Regions from separate parts of the Homo sapiens genome. Here region 1 is linked to region 2. The links come from fine-mapping of genetic effects on plasma protein levels. A gene starts in region 2. The other region holds a variant in brackets. All regions are shown on one strand. Distances are from middle to middle.

Region 1 (8,346 bases), 88 kb after region 2:
CATTGTAGTGAGACATAATGTAACACCCACGTAGACAGTTAAGTAATTTGTAAAACACATGAGATGATGAAAGGACAATATAACTGCAAAATTTTATTATTACACAGGTATTTCAATTTAGCAACCCTATCAGTAATATTCATTTATATAGGGCATTAACTTTTTGTTGGTTTTATCTTATTTGATATTATTAACACTTGACTTTAATTCAGGCTTTTAATTCAGAGTTCTAGACTAAGAGAATAAAAAGATAAAATAAAATATGAAATAAAGTTAAGCATGTATAAAAGTCCACTTTAAAACTATATTTATCAGTATAGTACACATGTCCTTTAATAAATTTTACCATTAATTTTAGCATTATTACATTTAAAGCTGAAAAATTATTTTCAGTTTTTATAGTTAATAAGAATTATTATTAATTAATTTTCATTGCCTAAAGGATCCTAAGTACATGTAATAGCCGATTTCTCCTCTTGTGTTCTCCTAGTTCCTCAATTTCAATAAGAATTTCATTGTTAGTAGCAGAATCTTATGGAAATAATGGTAAGAGCCATTATGAAATTTCTGTAAGGATATCTGAGTGAGTCATATTTAGTTGTATTTGCTGAAAATAAAATAAATTGACTTGAGTTTTAGTCATATCTAGGAAATGATGTTTGGGAAGATTAAGCATATAACAATTTACAGAACCTTATCTTCTAGTCAGACACCGTTCTAACCACTGTTTATTGTCATTTAATCCCTACAATGAGATTATGGGGCAGATATTTCTATTATTTATCTATATTTCACTGATGAGAAAATTGAACTACAGAAATGTTAAGCAACTTCCTAAAGCTCTGATGTAAGCCTGTGATGGAGCTGGAACTTGAATCCAAGCAGTCTGGTTCCATGATGTCCTTGATCCATCAAGGTTAAGCACAACAAGCTTTCCTGGTCTGCTTTTCTGAAATATGCTCTATCAGCGAGATATCTGAAGCACTTTATTCATGAAAGTTTCTTCTCTCATCTTAGTTTTAAAGTTCCTGTCAAATTTGGAAGGAAATTATGTGTCTCAGTATGGTATTTTACTGTGATTACTTCTGATTATAGTGGCATACCAAAAAACATTTTTTATTTTAGTGGCAGTTGAGCATTGCTCAATTTTAAAAAGTAACCAAATTAACCCAAATATTTTACAGTAAAATGGTATGTTTCACTTGAACAAAACAAAGCAAGCAAGACCAGGTTAATTTAAGCAAATTGTCACTAATGTCTCCATTGTCTTTAGAGTTTAGAGAAAGTAAAATTTATGACCTAAACTATTCTACTAATAGTCTTCATTATCCATTAGAAGACCAATGTCTTGATACATTTTAAGTTTATGATTTCTTTCTTTAATATTAAAAGTTAAACTTAAGTTAGACATTCTATTAGTAATATAACATTCTGACACTTAGATTAAGAACACTCATATGAGAGAATGTTCATTGTATTTCATTCTAAATGATGTTCTTGAAATTATCTACAGAATTTCTCATAATCTGGAATACTTCAGTAGGAAATAGGTTCAAATGTTCTATAGTAAATTTGTTCAAAATTCTGTATACATATATATGTTAAATATATGTATACATATACATATTTGAGAAAATCCAATTAGGCAGCAAATGACCTTTTACCACTTGAAAAATATTTAATTTAGAGATTTTTATTTACTAATTTTCCAACATAAAAAATAAATCCTAAAGGAAAGTCTACGTACTTATTTATTTTACATGTATTTCCCCATATAAGATGTCTAAAATAAGCTAGAGAATATTAAAACAAATCTGTAGCTGGTTACCTAAAATTTAACCAATCAAGGCAATATATAATTGACCTAGGTCCTTTTGTTACTTAGTAGGATATGCATGGAACTTTGCATCTTCAAGTAAAATGTCATGTGTAGCAAAGCATACTGTGTCACATGCTGCTAAAATATTTTCCTTTACCATAGTTTTGTAAATAGAATTTTTAAAAGTTGACAAAAAGCCAACTTCTAGCTTTCAGAGTTCTGCAGTATTTTTCAGAAAATAGTAAAAATAATAGCTAAGTCACTAAGGGACCTTTTCCATACAATGTTCTAAGGCAGAAATTCTGATAATAGAGAATTTTTGAAACAATCAATTTCAAGTCATTGGCTTAAGTGACCAGGGCACAGGTTAACTATATTGTGTTTAGAGAGTTTGTATGTCTCTCTATCCATGATAATCCAAATATTTGGTGAATCTAAATTTTAAAGAGCAGAACCTGGGAGACTAACATTAAATGACTTTTGCCTTCTTCATAACTTTGTCTAGGACAGATAGCACATATATATAGGCTCAATGCAGAAAGGTTTACTACATAAGATTTTGATTAGGTCACTGAAAAATTAGCTGTATTTTTGAAAATAATTTGTTGGGAGACTAAGCTTTCAATTTCTTATTAGAAAGGAGTATTTTCAATTAAGGTGATGAATGGTCAATATCTTTGTAATGTTTTCTCCTTGATTCCAGTTTTCCTTTTGATATATTCTGTTACCAGAGGAGAGTTAACTCATAAAAGACCTTTCCTTTAGGCTTCTGTTTGGCATACAGAGAAGTGAAGAACAGGGATAAATAGACAACGTAATAACAGTGACCAGCAGGAAGGTGTTGCAGTCAACAAGATTAAAACAAAACCTAATCTGCAAAGTGAATTGTTCAATTTCATCATTGAAAACTGTATATATATTTTTTAAACCTGAGGGGCTGAGGAGATTAGATGTATTGTACATTTAGAATGTTAAGTGAATGTAACTGTATTCATCCACATAGTGATTTCCCTTAGTAACATAAGAAATTGTACTTATACTTTAAAGTGGCTTTTGAAAGTAGAAGGAAACTAAATTAGATTTTAATTGAAATTGATACAGACAGGAGGCCAGGAAATGTGGGGTAGAAGAGTGCAGGGTCCCTGGTGAGGTCTCTGCTCTCAAGCTGGGGCCCACGGCCCTAAATGAGAATTTCACATCCCTGTTTTCCCACCCAAATATTGCTTTTGGCCTGCCCTGCCCCTCTATCCTGTGCCCATATAAACCCCAGACCTCAGCTGGCAGAGGGCCAAGAGGCTGAATGTCGAGTGGGGAAGAGGCAACTGAGTGTCAGAGACTGTGGATAGACTTGGCTTAATTTCAGATGGCATGACTTTGGAGAGGAGCCAACTGGAGATGGTTTGGCTTCAGGGGATGATTATCTTCCCACTTCATCCCCTTTCCAGCTCCTCATCCAACTGAGAGCCACCTTCATCACTCAATAAAACCTCCACATTCATCATCCCTCAAGTCCATCTGATTTGATTCTTCCTGGATGTCAGACAAGGACCAGGGTACCAAGAGGGCAGGGTGTAAAACGCTGTCACCCAGCTCACCACTGAGCTGGTGAACACTTAAGTCATTTGCATATGGCTACTGCTAAAAGAGCATTAGTTCTAACACACCCCTAGACACTACCATGGGGCCAGAGCCCAAAAGCGCTTGCCCCGGCCCCGGCACCCACTCATCTGTGTGCTGTCCCTCCTGCAAAGTGTTTGAGCATAATGGTGGAGTAAGCCATCCACATCCCTGTTGCAAAAAAGCAAAGGGGTTCAGGGAACTCTCCCATCTCAAAACGGCACACAATTATCTCATGGAGAACATTCTGGGAAGAAAGTGATGGAATCCCTGTAGACTTCAAAAGCTGTGAAAAAATATGCATCCATATGCAAAGTCAAAATTTCATGTTAATGTGAATTTCTTCATGTGGCCCACTACATGAAAGGAATCCTGTTCATCAAAGTCTTCACTACATGTTCAACAAATAACTGTTGTTTTCTGTATTTGTGATTGCTTATACTCTGACATGAGTGAAATTTTAAAGTAGCAATTATATTTGAATTATGTTTGTACTCTTGAAAAAATCATGAACTAAAATTTCTATTTATCTCAAGTTTTTTTTGATGTTATAACTATAGTTATTTTTAACAGAAACCCACTTTGTACTAAAAACTCAAGACAGTGATGTACCAACTGAGATACTTAGCTTGGGGTGAAAAGAGTTAGACCTGCTTAAACATACCAGCTATGGAATATAATTGCATGTCCACATTTGTTACTGATAATTAAAATTTTTAACTGGAGATTTAAAAAATGACAATTGGCTTGAAACATACATAAAAGTTTTGTACTTGGGCTGATAAAGGAATACATTTATTTGTCACCACATGTTTAACTTTAGAAAGCATTAAACATGGTAAGTATTATAGCATTAGAGAGACTTTTCAAAGAGAGCTCCATAGAAAAGACTTTTGCTATATTTCTTTAAAAAATATAGCACACTAAATAACTTGTCAATATGTTTTCCTGGCTTAAATCTTTATTCTGTTCTAGAAAAATAATTCCAAACAGAATCTTCTCATTCTGTCTGACAATAAATGTGTGTGTATGTGTGTGTGTGTGTGTGTGTGTGTATGTAAAACTTTAGGATATTACTAATACTTTATTGCATAAAAATATTGAAATTTAAATTCCATATCCAGTTGTTATAAAAAATGTCAATGCTCCCTTAGATCTTGATTTTCCTAAACATTTTATCATCAGTTTTAAGTGTAAATGTCCTAGAAAATAATTCATTTCCATGATTAGTTTAATTGCACTTATATTTATATATAACAACATAGAGGAAAATACGCGCATGGCTTTTATCTGTTTGAAAATGGTTAATTTTTCTAACACTGATGTATGTCAAGATACTGAAATGACAGCTTCTCTTCTTGAACCTTAACTATGATGCAGCTCATTACATTAGCACCAAGAAAGCAGGCCATAAATTTCCACAGTGTGTTCAGGCATGTCTGTAGGCTTGACATTGCCTTCCTCATAGAATATCCATCATTCCAGAAATGTCCTGGGTGCTGAAGGGACAGACTGCAAAGAAATTAAATTCCCAAAATAGCAACACAGAATTTCTCACTGTTAAAATCAGTAAATGAT[A/T]CTGTTGTAATCAGTTGGATTTCTGCCTCATCATTAAACTGAAGTAATTTCCTGCTTATGTCAGAAAGAATTTCATGCTTTAAAAACTATGGAGAGTTTACTATGTTTACTTAGTTTATGAAAATGGGAAAAAATGAACAGCAGAGTAAAATTAATAGAAAATCTAAAACATGAACAGAAATATATTTTTTACTTCATGCATTTTAGGAAATAATAAACTTTAATGAACTAAATGTAAGCAAGCACTTTCAGGACTGAAAATATATTATTTCTAAAGAATATGCTTGGAGTGATGAACAGTCAAGACACTTTTTGTTGCAATACTTATACCATGTAATGGAACTACAGATAATGTTTAAGGCATAGAGGGGAAAGAACATATTGAAAGGTACAAATTACCACTTTTTTTCCTGCCTAAGAATGTTAAGTTCTTTGAGGAAATGAATGCGAAATAGAAACTGACTATTTAAATGCAAAGCCCATTTAATATTAATTAAGGATGGAAAGAATATTCTGTCACACATTCATCGATTTCAGCCAGCATCAATACAAAGTCTCATTGTTGGGGATGTAAAATGAACATGATATCATGGAATTTCAGATCCTGTATATTTTTGGGGAGTTGCGGGGGGGGAATGCAGAAAAAAAATGGACTGGAAAATCTGTCTCTTATTTTAATATTCAATTTACTGATTTTCTTAAAATGAGAAACATAACTTTGGGTAGATATCAGATACTTTTAAAACCTCTGATTCAATATTTTTTAAGTAAAACATTGATCATGCTACTTTTTCTGTAATTAAGATAGAAAAAAATCAATGTATTTCTTCAATTGACAATAACTATATTATATAACATTAAGTGTTGTGTTCATATTTCAAAAAATGTGACCCCAAAAAATCAGATGCTAAGGTAAAGGAAAAGGTAAACCAATTCCTGTGGATTAGCAGTTCTGGTAGACAGAATAGTAGACCCTTCAAAAGGTACAACGTTCTTGCCCTGAAAATTTGTGAATGTTACCCAATGTGGTAAAAGGAATTTTGCTGATATAATTAATGTCATGGACCTTAAAATAGGGAAAGGTGACCTGAATTATCCAGGTGTCACTGATCTAATCACCCAATCTAATCTAATCTAATCAGCCTCTAAAAGCAGATAATTTTGGGAAGGCGAGGCTGGTGGATCATGAGGTCAGGAGTTCAAGACCAGCCTGGCCAAGATGGTGAAACCCCATCTCTAATAAAAATACAAAAATTAGCCCGGTGCAGTGGCAGGTGCCTGTAATCCCAGCCACTCAGGAGGCTGAGGCAGGAGAATTGCTTGAACCCGGGGGGTGGAGGTTGCAGTGAGCCAAGATCACGCCACTGCCCAGCCTGGGCAACAGAGTGAGACTCCATCTCAAAAAAAGAAAAAAAAAAAAACAAAAAACAAGCAGAGTATTGTCTACAGCTAGTTGAAGAACAAGATGGCATAAAGAGGCAGCAAAAGGGAAGTTGGAGAGATTCAAAGTCTGAGAGGGAATCCACTTGCTGTTGCTGGAGACCATGGGTGAGAAGGGCCGTTACTAAGAGTGTCGCAGGCACCTCAAAGCATGAGAAGAAATACCCCTAACCTCTAGGAGGGAAGATTAACCCTCACATCTGAGAGGCAGCAAAGAAATGAAAACCTCAGTTACAGAAACTGAATTCTTCCAAACAACCAGAGTGAATTTGGAAACTGGTTAATTCCCCAGAGCCTCCAGAAAGGGTGAGCAAAGCTTCACTGACACTGATTTTGGCTCTCTGAGACCCAGTGCAAAAAACCAGCAGAATTTCATTCCTATTTCTGACCTACAGAAGTTAGATAATAATAGTGTGTTGTTTTAGGCCAAAAAAAAAAACAACAAAAAAAAAACAACTATGGTAATATGTTAAAGTGGTATAGAAATCACTATCAAAGAATTGTTTCCTCTTAAGTCATAAAAGTTAAATGAAAGAAAAGTATATTCACAAACATATGTCATTAAATTAATTGTTAATCCAAGCGTGCACACAATATGTTTTTATATCCTTCTAGATGTGTAATTGGGGTAATATACAATATTCAAAACTGCATATCAGAAAACAGTGAAGCTGCCTAGTGTTCAATTTGTTGTGTGGATCCATTCAAAGTGCCTAATGTAGAAAACTTAAAAGTAGAGTCAGATTTTATTAGAAACTGTTCCCTCCAGGACAAGCTCATATACAAATCTGCTTGAAGTTGGTGCTATTAGCAGTGGAGCTCCTCAATTGACCTGACTTTTGTAAAAATTTTATTTTCTTGCCTCTTTCCAGCTAGTGATTTTAGCAGTAATAAGCAGTAAAAATTTACAGGGAAGCTGTACAATGAATGCTTGACCTCAGCTATGATTGCAAACATATCCTCTTATATAGGTAAACATATTGACTTGGGACAACTCAAATTCATTTAGGGCAATGCCTGTGACAACAGAAAATACAAACCATTATTAAAATTTCTGATTCCATGTTATCCTGGGCCACATAATGAAATCCCATCTCTTAAAAAAAATTAGCTGTATGTGGTGGCATATGACTATAGTCCCAGCTACTCAGGAGTCTGAGGTGGGAGGATGGTTTGAGCCTGGAAGGTTGAGGCTGTAGTGACCGGTGATTGTGTCACTGCACTCTAGCCTGGGTAACAGAGTGAGACCCTGTCTCAAAAAACAGAACAAAACAAAAAAATTGCTGACTCTATTTCTTGGGAACTCCCCGGTGATTCACTACTCATTATTTATGTGTGCCTAGATATCTTTTCTCTGCCCAAATGGTAGATAAATCCTAATTTAAAAACTCTCATAGTATTTCCACAGAAATTAAAGTGAGTGTCTTGATGGAAATTTAATAGATATTGATATATTTTTATAGCATCATTGTATATTTCATATCATAAAATATAATTTGCAATTTAAAATTAAAAAAACAGAGGGACAAATATTAGGGGCAAATAACCAAATTAAAGCATGTTTTAATTTAGGATTAATGCTGTTATTTTAATTGTTAAGGGGAAGAATGCAGACGTTTTCTATGAATCATTAATATCTAAAACACTCAATCAACTATTATTTAAGTCTTTAGGGAGTGCTTAAAATATAACAGAAAGTAATTTAGAGTGTTCTGCCCTCTATATGTAAGATTTAAAAGAAATACTCCTTTGTTAGGTTATATTTGAGTGATTTTTAAATTTATTTAATTATATTATAAGCAGCAATTTGTAAGTAGGAAAAGAAAATATTGTTTTAAAGTACTCTTTACTCATCTAAAAGCCCAAGCAAGAATTAATAAACTGCTGCCATT
Region 2 (8,313 bases):
GACTAAGAATTCTAATTCCAGGAACCTATAATAAGAAAATAAATAATGATGTTAACATTGATTTATGTTTAAGGTGGTTCTTTGCTGCATTATTTATGAGAGTAAAAATTCTATAAAGAACTAAATATCCAATGGTAAAATTAGTCCTATGAATTATTTTGTGTCATACAAGGAATTAAGTCTCTGATAGTAGAAGATGTTTAATAACATTAAAATTTTTCACAAATAAATGTTAAGTACAAAAAGCATGTTAAAAAGTATATGTATATTTTTACAGCACTAATCTCTGTGGATTTCAACTTTCTTTTTTGTTGTTTTCTGTGTTTCCTAAAACCTATGTAAGTAATATGTATTTCATTATCTTACAATATAATACATACTTTGTAGGAAACACAGACTTTTTCTTCTGTGTGTGAGTATCTGCAAGGTCTTGTGAACATATAGAAAATACTAAAACAAGTGCTCAAAAAGTATATACTTAAGCATCAATTAATATAATAAACAATTGTGGAAATATAGATCCTTCTCATATACTTGTAGTGTGTGTAGTATAGTGTGATATATAGCTAAGAGTATTACCCTTACTGGGCAAAACTTTGGTTGCCTTATTCATGTGAAATAACAAAAATAATAAATTAGAATTTCTGAATATATAAAATTATATTTTGATCAGTATTCTTTCCAATAAGCCCAATATGAGATTTGTTACAAAAATGAGACTATATGAGAAACTCATAGCCAAACCTATGGCCCAAAGTAATAAAAAATATAAAATGATATAAACATAGGACAGTGATACTTTAAGCCACAAAGTAAAACTGTACATTCATTTTGATGTGTTTTACTGAGATTGCTATTTCTTTGATGAGAAATAAAAGTTGCTAAGTTTTAAAAAGCAATATACTATAAAAGAAATACTATAAAAATATTGTATTAACTTCACCTTCAGAAATTGTGTAATATCTTCATTATCGTAGCACCCAATTCCTAGAATATTACAATCTACAAAAATAAGATATGAAAATATGTGTGAGAATCTTACATTCTAAGCATATTTGTTTATAGGTACAATTCATTTATAACCCTGTCTTGTAGTTTACAATTATTATCTCAAGATGAAAAAAATCACAATGACCCCTTTATCTTATGACAGTAGTAGATTAAACTTAGGACTAATGAATTCTCTCCTACAGTGGTTATACTGTTTATTACTGGTTTCAAATCATAGTAAATATTAAATGTGGTAACAATTATCCTGAGTTCAAATGTGAAAAGTCTAAGGAAGGCAAGAGACACTAGGTCTGTTGTAAAATCATTTTTAAAGTGTTTTGGATTCAGAAAAAAGCAACGTGAAGGGACCAAAAAAATCATAAACTATAATATATACTAGTATGTGTTAAATATACTAGTAAGGAAACTGATCCACAGAAAGCTTAACCAGGGTCATAAATGGCATTGTATATTAAGAACAAAGAGAGACTTAGTAGAATAAAAGCTTAGTTCAGGAGTCTGTAGCTTTGTTACCATAACAAAGTCAAATGATATTTTTTAATCTTGGTAAATTAGTCAATGTTACTTAGCCTCAGTTTCCACATCCATAAAATAGGATCAAATTCACTATTAACCAACCAGTTATCTTTAGTTCTCTGCAATAAAAAGTATTGTGGATGAGGGAAGAGTAAAGATAGACTTCCTATATGTAATTTTGTATTTGTTAAATCAAAGTATTACTTTTACAGTTAAAAATTAGAACAGTAATTTTTAAAGTTATTGTGAAGATTAAATAAACTGGATAAAAAAAGTTAGTTATAAATTCTACTTTTTCATTTTAAAAATGTAGTGCACATATGGAAATATCTAGAAACTTGATGCCATTTGGGAAAAAATGGATAATTAACTGGCAAATTTCTTCTTAGTCTGAAAAATTCTTTATTGAACAATCAACATACACCTTTTCTTGTTTGAGAGGAGAACTTGTTTGATGAAGAATAGAAATGTGTGAACATTTAATGACACAATTGAAATCTTTCTGGTCACAGCCAGGAAATTAAACTATAGCCCTGAGCAAATATTATCAATCATCATCATCATCTGGAATATCCTTTATCTCCAGCTACTGAGATTATCTGTTGAGAGGCAAGGCAACTGAAGGAGTTCACTTGAGCTCAAATAGACAGCGTGGAACCCTTTTAAGAAAAATTCATGCCTAAGAAATATTCCCCTAAGGTATTAGAAATGTTTAGATCACATATAAATCCCTTATATTTTTATTCTCCACCAATAAATTTATTGTTTAACTTGAATAGTTAGGCTTTGAAGTTGTAGGTGTGGTTTTCTAGACCGTTTTATGTCTCTAAAATATATTTATTATGAAAATATTATGATAGCTATTATAGAGGGTCCATTTCAATAGACTTACATGTGTACCTCTATATTTTGCTTGCAAGTTTGTATTGGAGATCTTCATATAGGCGGTATAATCTTAATCTTTTCTTCTCAGGTTTAGTTGCTCATCTGAGAACTACCACACTTTTTTCTTAGAGTGCAGAGATAAGAAATTATTTGAAGAGGATATAATTTAAAAAATTTTGTAAGATACCTAAATAGGAGAATCCTAACTGTAAATTTTCTATTGTGATTGGTGTGTTAAGAGGAAAGAAGAAATAAGGGATGAGAGAAAGATACAGAATTTAAAGGGTGAAGAGGAGAATGAAATCTGAATACAAACTGTAGGTTATCTAAATTCATTTAAATCAACTTAAATATGTTCTTGGAGTCTCTTCACATAAAGATAATATTCTGTAAGTTGAAAAAAAATGTAACCTTTTAAGGTTAAAAATGTGGGTTTTAGATGATTGTCCTTTCTAAACAGCCAGCATTTTTCTGTTTTCCTTGAGTCTTGCCTAACCCTATTAATCACAGACACCATAAGGCTGATTTCCTTTCTCAGAGTGGTTTCTTGGGCCAAGATATTTTAGACCTGAGTCCTATTTAAGAAGAAACAGAAAAATGATTTCCTTCAGTTGAACTCCTCCACATCTGCAGTTCTCAACTGCATAGCATTTCTTTAGCATAATGGTTTCAAATTGATTAAGGTCTTTTTTTTTCACTCTCTACATGTGGTAATGGGTCAAATTAAATGAGAACAGAGTTATTTCAGAAGTGTATCAGGATGTCTAAAAAAGATCTCTCTAGTGTACACACGTGCACACACACAAACACACACATGCATGCACATACACACACACACTGAAATGTCTTCATCCCCACCTCCCTTCACTGAATTTCACCAGAGGAATACAACAAAAATATTTTGTCATATGAAAACATTGTATATAGATATGAAATTTTCTCCACCCACCTAGAAATTAGATTCTGACCCAGAAAAAAAAATCTTGTAAACATCTTTAAGACCTTCCCTAGCCTTGGGAATTTTCCCAACCCCAGTCCTTTCCCCCAAATTTTTACTCCCCATCTTTCTCAAAATACACACTTCCTTGAACATTTGCTCTTTTGCACAAAATATTAGCAAGCTCGTTGCAGCTGTCCAACTTGCAAAAGACCTAATTAAAAAGGCAAGTGGTGTAAACATATCCTCTCTGCATAGAGTGAAGAAAGGGCCAAACAGTAACTCTATTTAAAAGACCTAAAAATTTCAAATCCTAAAATGATCTATAAATATTTTAGGACGTATTGATGTGAAAAGGTGTCGACTCTGAAAGGAAAAGTCAGCAAAAGAGGCTTCACGGAAGCAGCATGTTCACGTTTTCTTCCATCCCAGAAGGTGATATTACTGGATTTTTATAAGCTCAGAGTTTGGAATCTGTTGTTTCCTTAACTGGAAAAAGCCTGAGCTTCGTGTTTCCCCAGCATCAGTGACCCAACAAGCATCTGCGCGAAGAGGAGCTGCCGGCTACCTGCAGAGAGCGTTCTCGCTGAGCTTTAGAGTCCAGAGATTTCTATCTCCTCCTCTCAAAATGCAACTGGTTATTTACTTGTAAACATTTAAATTAGTTCAAACTGATGTGAAAACTTTGTCAGTGGGGTGTGTGTGTGTGTGTGCGTGCGTGTAGTGTGCGCGCGCCTGCCTGCCAGTGGGTTTTTAACAGCACTCACAAATCATCTTGGGATTTTTCCCTGCCCCCTCTCCCTTCTTTTCCGGTTCTCAGTTAAAGCTTTCGGGACTGGAATCAAGGACTTCAGCATGCATTGTGTTTCACCCTCCAGAGTTAAATAACATTCAAGAAATATCAAAGAACCTAACTCTCAATGACCAAATTGACTAAATTTCTGCAAGTTTTAAAAAGTATATGCCTAATTTATATACCTTGCAAAAAAATTCATACTCAATTATGATATTATGTAACATATATGTTCCGAAAGCCACTTTGAACATACCAAAAGAAATGTTTCAAAGACATCAAATAGCGTAAAACACTGTGCCGCAGAGAAGGAAGAAATGCATTTAAAGAACCGATGAAAATGGCGTGCAGTATAATTACCTCAAATTGCTGTTCGCTTGACACCCTGACACTAATTTTATTCAAGCCATTGGGAAATAAATGTTTTAAAAGCACTCCTTTCCGAATGGTGGAGCTGGTGGGGGCTGTGAACTCGTTAAGGAAAGGAAAGGGTAAAGTTTCCAGCACGCAAAAATAATCAAATAATCCATTTAAAATAAGCATCTATGTAGATCGTCAGCCTTTTATGCCCACATTTTTAACGCTTGCCCTGTACGTGGATTGATTTTTTTTTCTTTCAGCATTCCCTAGCCAGATGGATTTTTGCTACTGCAGATCAGCAGAGGGTGTCAGATCTTTCAGAGTGCACCAGGCTGGAACGAGCAGAGCTTCTTAGCAACTCTCTTCTCCGCCCCCCTCCCCTCATTCTCGCGCTCTCTTCCTCCCTCAGACAACTCGCCCCCCGCCCTCCGCCCCCCTCCACGTAATTCCGAAAGAGCAGAAGAAAGAGAAGGAGAACAGGAAAAGAAGAGCTAGTAAGCGAGAGCGAGAGCACAGAAAAGAAAAAAAAAAGCCTTAAGAGGACCGAAGGGGAGGAAAGGAAAAGGATGGACAACCACAAAACGCAGCGATTGCGGAAATTTTCCAGCGCCATTGGCTGGGCAGCGTGAGTCCTTCGGTCGGGCGTGATTTCAGCACCGGGGGAACTGGACAGCACCTCGGGGGGACTTCTGGGCAACCCGCAACCACAGCAAGAACTCCACCAGCAGCCTCAACAACAGAAGCCGCGGAAAACCCTGCTTTGTATCAGAGAGGCAAGGTCAGTCCGACGCACAGCCATGCACAGGCAGTGCGCCTGTACTACGCTGCAAACCCTCTGCTTGTTTCTCTAACATGCACTTGCTTCTAATTACTAGCATTGTTTCATTTCTGATCAGTGAAGATCAGTAGATGAGATTCTGTAAGGGTGTACTTTTAATTTATATGTATATATTTAACTTCTTTTTCTGTTATTTTTAAAGTGTTGTGGGGGAGTGGGGTTTTTTTCCTACTTTTTTTTTTTTTTTTTTTTCTTTGCTTGCCTTGCACTACGTGCCTGGATAGTTTGTGGATATAATTATTGACTGGCGTCTGGGCTATTGCAGTGCGGGGGGGTTAGGGAGGAAGGAATCCACCCCCACCCCCCCAAACCCTTTTCTTCTCCTTTCCTGGCTTCGGACATTGGAGCACTAAATGAACTTGAATTGTGTCTGTGGCGAGCAGGATGGTCGCTGTTACTTTGTGATGAGATCGGGGATGAATTGCTCGCTTTAAAAATGCTGCTTTGGATTCTGTTGCTGGAGACGTCTCTTTGTTTTGCCGCTGGAAACGTTACAGGGGACGTTTGCAAAGAGAAGATCTGTTCCTGCAATGAGATAGAAGGGGACCTACACGTAGACTGTGAAAAAAAGGGCTTCACAAGTCTGCAGCGTTTCACTGCCCCGACTTCCCAGTTTTACCATTTATTTCTGCATGGCAATTCCCTCACTCGACTTTTCCCTAATGAGTTCGCTAACTTTTATAATGCGGTTAGTTTGCACATGGAAAACAATGGCTTGCATGAAATCGTTCCGGGGGCTTTTCTGGGGCTGCAGCTGGTGAAAAGGCTGCACATCAACAACAACAAGATCAAGTCTTTTCGAAAGCAGACTTTTCTGGGGCTGGACGATCTGGAATATCTCCAGGCTGATTTTAATTTATTACGAGATATAGACCCGGGGGCCTTCCAGGACTTGAACAAGCTGGAGGTGCTCATTTTAAATGACAATCTCATCAGCACCCTACCTGCCAACGTGTTCCAGTATGTGCCCATCACCCACCTCGACCTCCGGGGTAACAGGCTGAAAACGCTGCCCTATGAGGAGGTCTTGGAGCAAATCCCTGGTATTGCGGAGATCCTGCTAGAGGATAACCCTTGGGACTGCACCTGTGATCTGCTCTCCCTGAAAGAATGGCTGGAAAACATTCCCAAGAATGCCCTGATCGGCCGAGTGGTCTGCGAAGCCCCCACCAGACTGCAGGGTAAAGACCTCAATGAAACCACCGAACAGGACTTGTGTCCTTTGAAAAACCGAGTGGATTCTAGTCTCCCGGCGCCCCCTGCCCAAGAAGAGACCTTTGCTCCTGGACCCCTGCCAACTCCTTTCAAGACAAATGGGCAAGAGGATCATGCCACACCAGGGTCTGCTCCAAACGGAGGTACAAAGATCCCAGGCAACTGGCAGATCAAAATCAGACCCACAGCAGCGATAGCGACGGGTAGCTCCAGGAACAAACCCTTAGCTAACAGTTTACCCTGCCCTGGGGGCTGCAGCTGCGACCACATCCCAGGGTCGGGTTTAAAGATGAACTGCAACAACAGGAACGTGAGCAGCTTGGCTGATTTGAAGCCCAAGCTCTCTAACGTGCAGGAGCTTTTCCTACGAGATAACAAGATCCACAGCATCCGAAAATCGCACTTTGTGGATTACAAGAACCTCATTCTGTTGGATCTGGGCAACAATAACATCGCTACTGTAGAGAACAACACTTTCAAGAACCTTTTGGACCTCAGGTGGCTATACATGGATAGCAATTACCTGGACACGCTGTCCCGGGAGAAATTCGCGGGGCTGCAAAACCTAGAGTACCTGAACGTGGAGTACAACGCTATCCAGCTCATCCTCCCGGGCACTTTCAATGCCATGCCCAAACTGAGGATCCTCATTCTCAACAACAACCTGCTGAGGTCCCTGCCTGTGGACGTGTTCGCTGGGGTCTCGCTCTCTAAACTCAGCCTGCACAACAATTACTTCATGTACCTCCCGGTGGCAGGGGTGCTGGACCAGTTAACCTCCATCATCCAGATAGACCTCCACGGAAACCCCTGGGAGTGCTCCTGCACAATTGTGCCTTTCAAGCAGTGGGCAGAACGCTTGGGTTCCGAAGTGCTGATGAGCGACCTCAAGTGTGAGACGCCGGTGAACTTCTTTAGAAAGGATTTCATGCTCCTCTCCAATGACGAGATCTGCCCTCAGCTGTACGCTAGGATCTCGCCCACGTTAACTTCGCACAGTAAAAACAGCACTGGGTTGGCGGAGACCGGGACGCACTCCAACTCCTACCTAGACACCAGCAGGGTGTCCATCTCGGTGTTGGTCCCGGGACTGCTGCTGGTGTTTGTCACCTCCGCCTTCACCGTGGTGGGCATGCTCGTGTTTATCCTGAGGAACCGAAAGCGGTCCAAGAGACGAGATGCCAACTCCTCCGCGTCCGAGATTAATTCCCTACAGACAGTCTGTGACTCTTCCTACTGGCACAATGGGCCTTACAACGCAGATGGGGCCCACAGAGTGTATGACTGTGGCTCTCACTCGCTCTCAGACTAAGACCCCAACCCCAATAGGGGAGGGCAGAGGGAAGGCGATACATCCTTCCCCACCGCAGGCACCCCGGGGGCTGGAGGGGCGTGTACCCAAATCCCCGCGCCATCAGCCTGGATGGGCATAAGTAGATAAATAACTGTGAGCTCGCACAACCGAAAGGGCCTGACCCCTTACTTAGCTCCCTCCTTGAAACAAAGAGCAGACTGTGGAGAGCTGGGAGAGCGCAGCCAGCTCGCTCTTTGCTGAGAGCCCCTTTTGACAGAAAGCCCAGCACGACCCTGCTGGAAGAACTGACAGTGCCCTCGCCCTCGGCCCCGGGGCCTGTGGGGTTGGATGCCGCGGTTCTATACATATATACATATATCCACATCTATATAGAGAGATAGATATCTATTTTTCCCCTGTGGATTAGCCCCGTGATGGCTCCCTGTTGGCTACGCAGGGATGGG

Direction of the effects. Positions count from the first base shown, and alleles are read on the strand shown. Strength reflects both the effect of a copy and how common the allele is.
With allele A in place of T in region 1, the plasma level of the protein whose gene starts at base 4,810 in region 2 is lower (moderate association).

What was found. PIP is the posterior inclusion probability: the model's chance that the variant is causal. The UK Biobank Pharma Proteomics Project read protein levels with antibody pairs (Olink). The fine-mapping took linkage between variants from a reference panel, not from the people measured, so its PIPs are less certain.
Region 1: its variant is fine-mapped to the plasma level of the SLITRK1 protein (UK Biobank, PIP above 0.99).

Annotation. Positions count from the first base shown.
Region 1 is chr13:83,791,319-83,799,664 of GRCh38, reverse strand. All of the region lies in intron 3 of LOC105370286 (a long non-coding RNA gene), which reads left to right. Among named protein-coding and RNA genes, the nearest start is that of SLITRK1, 87 kb to the left of the region's middle. The variant A/T (reference allele first, on the strand shown) is at 5,015.
Region 2 is chr13:83,878,971-83,887,283 of GRCh38, reverse strand. It overlaps SLITRK1 (SLIT and NTRK like family member 1), which reads left to right and starts at 4,810. Exons shown (of 2, transcript NM_001281503.2): 1 at 4,810-5,280; 2 at 5,724-8,313. The coding sequence starts at 5,777. The coding sequence ends at 7,867.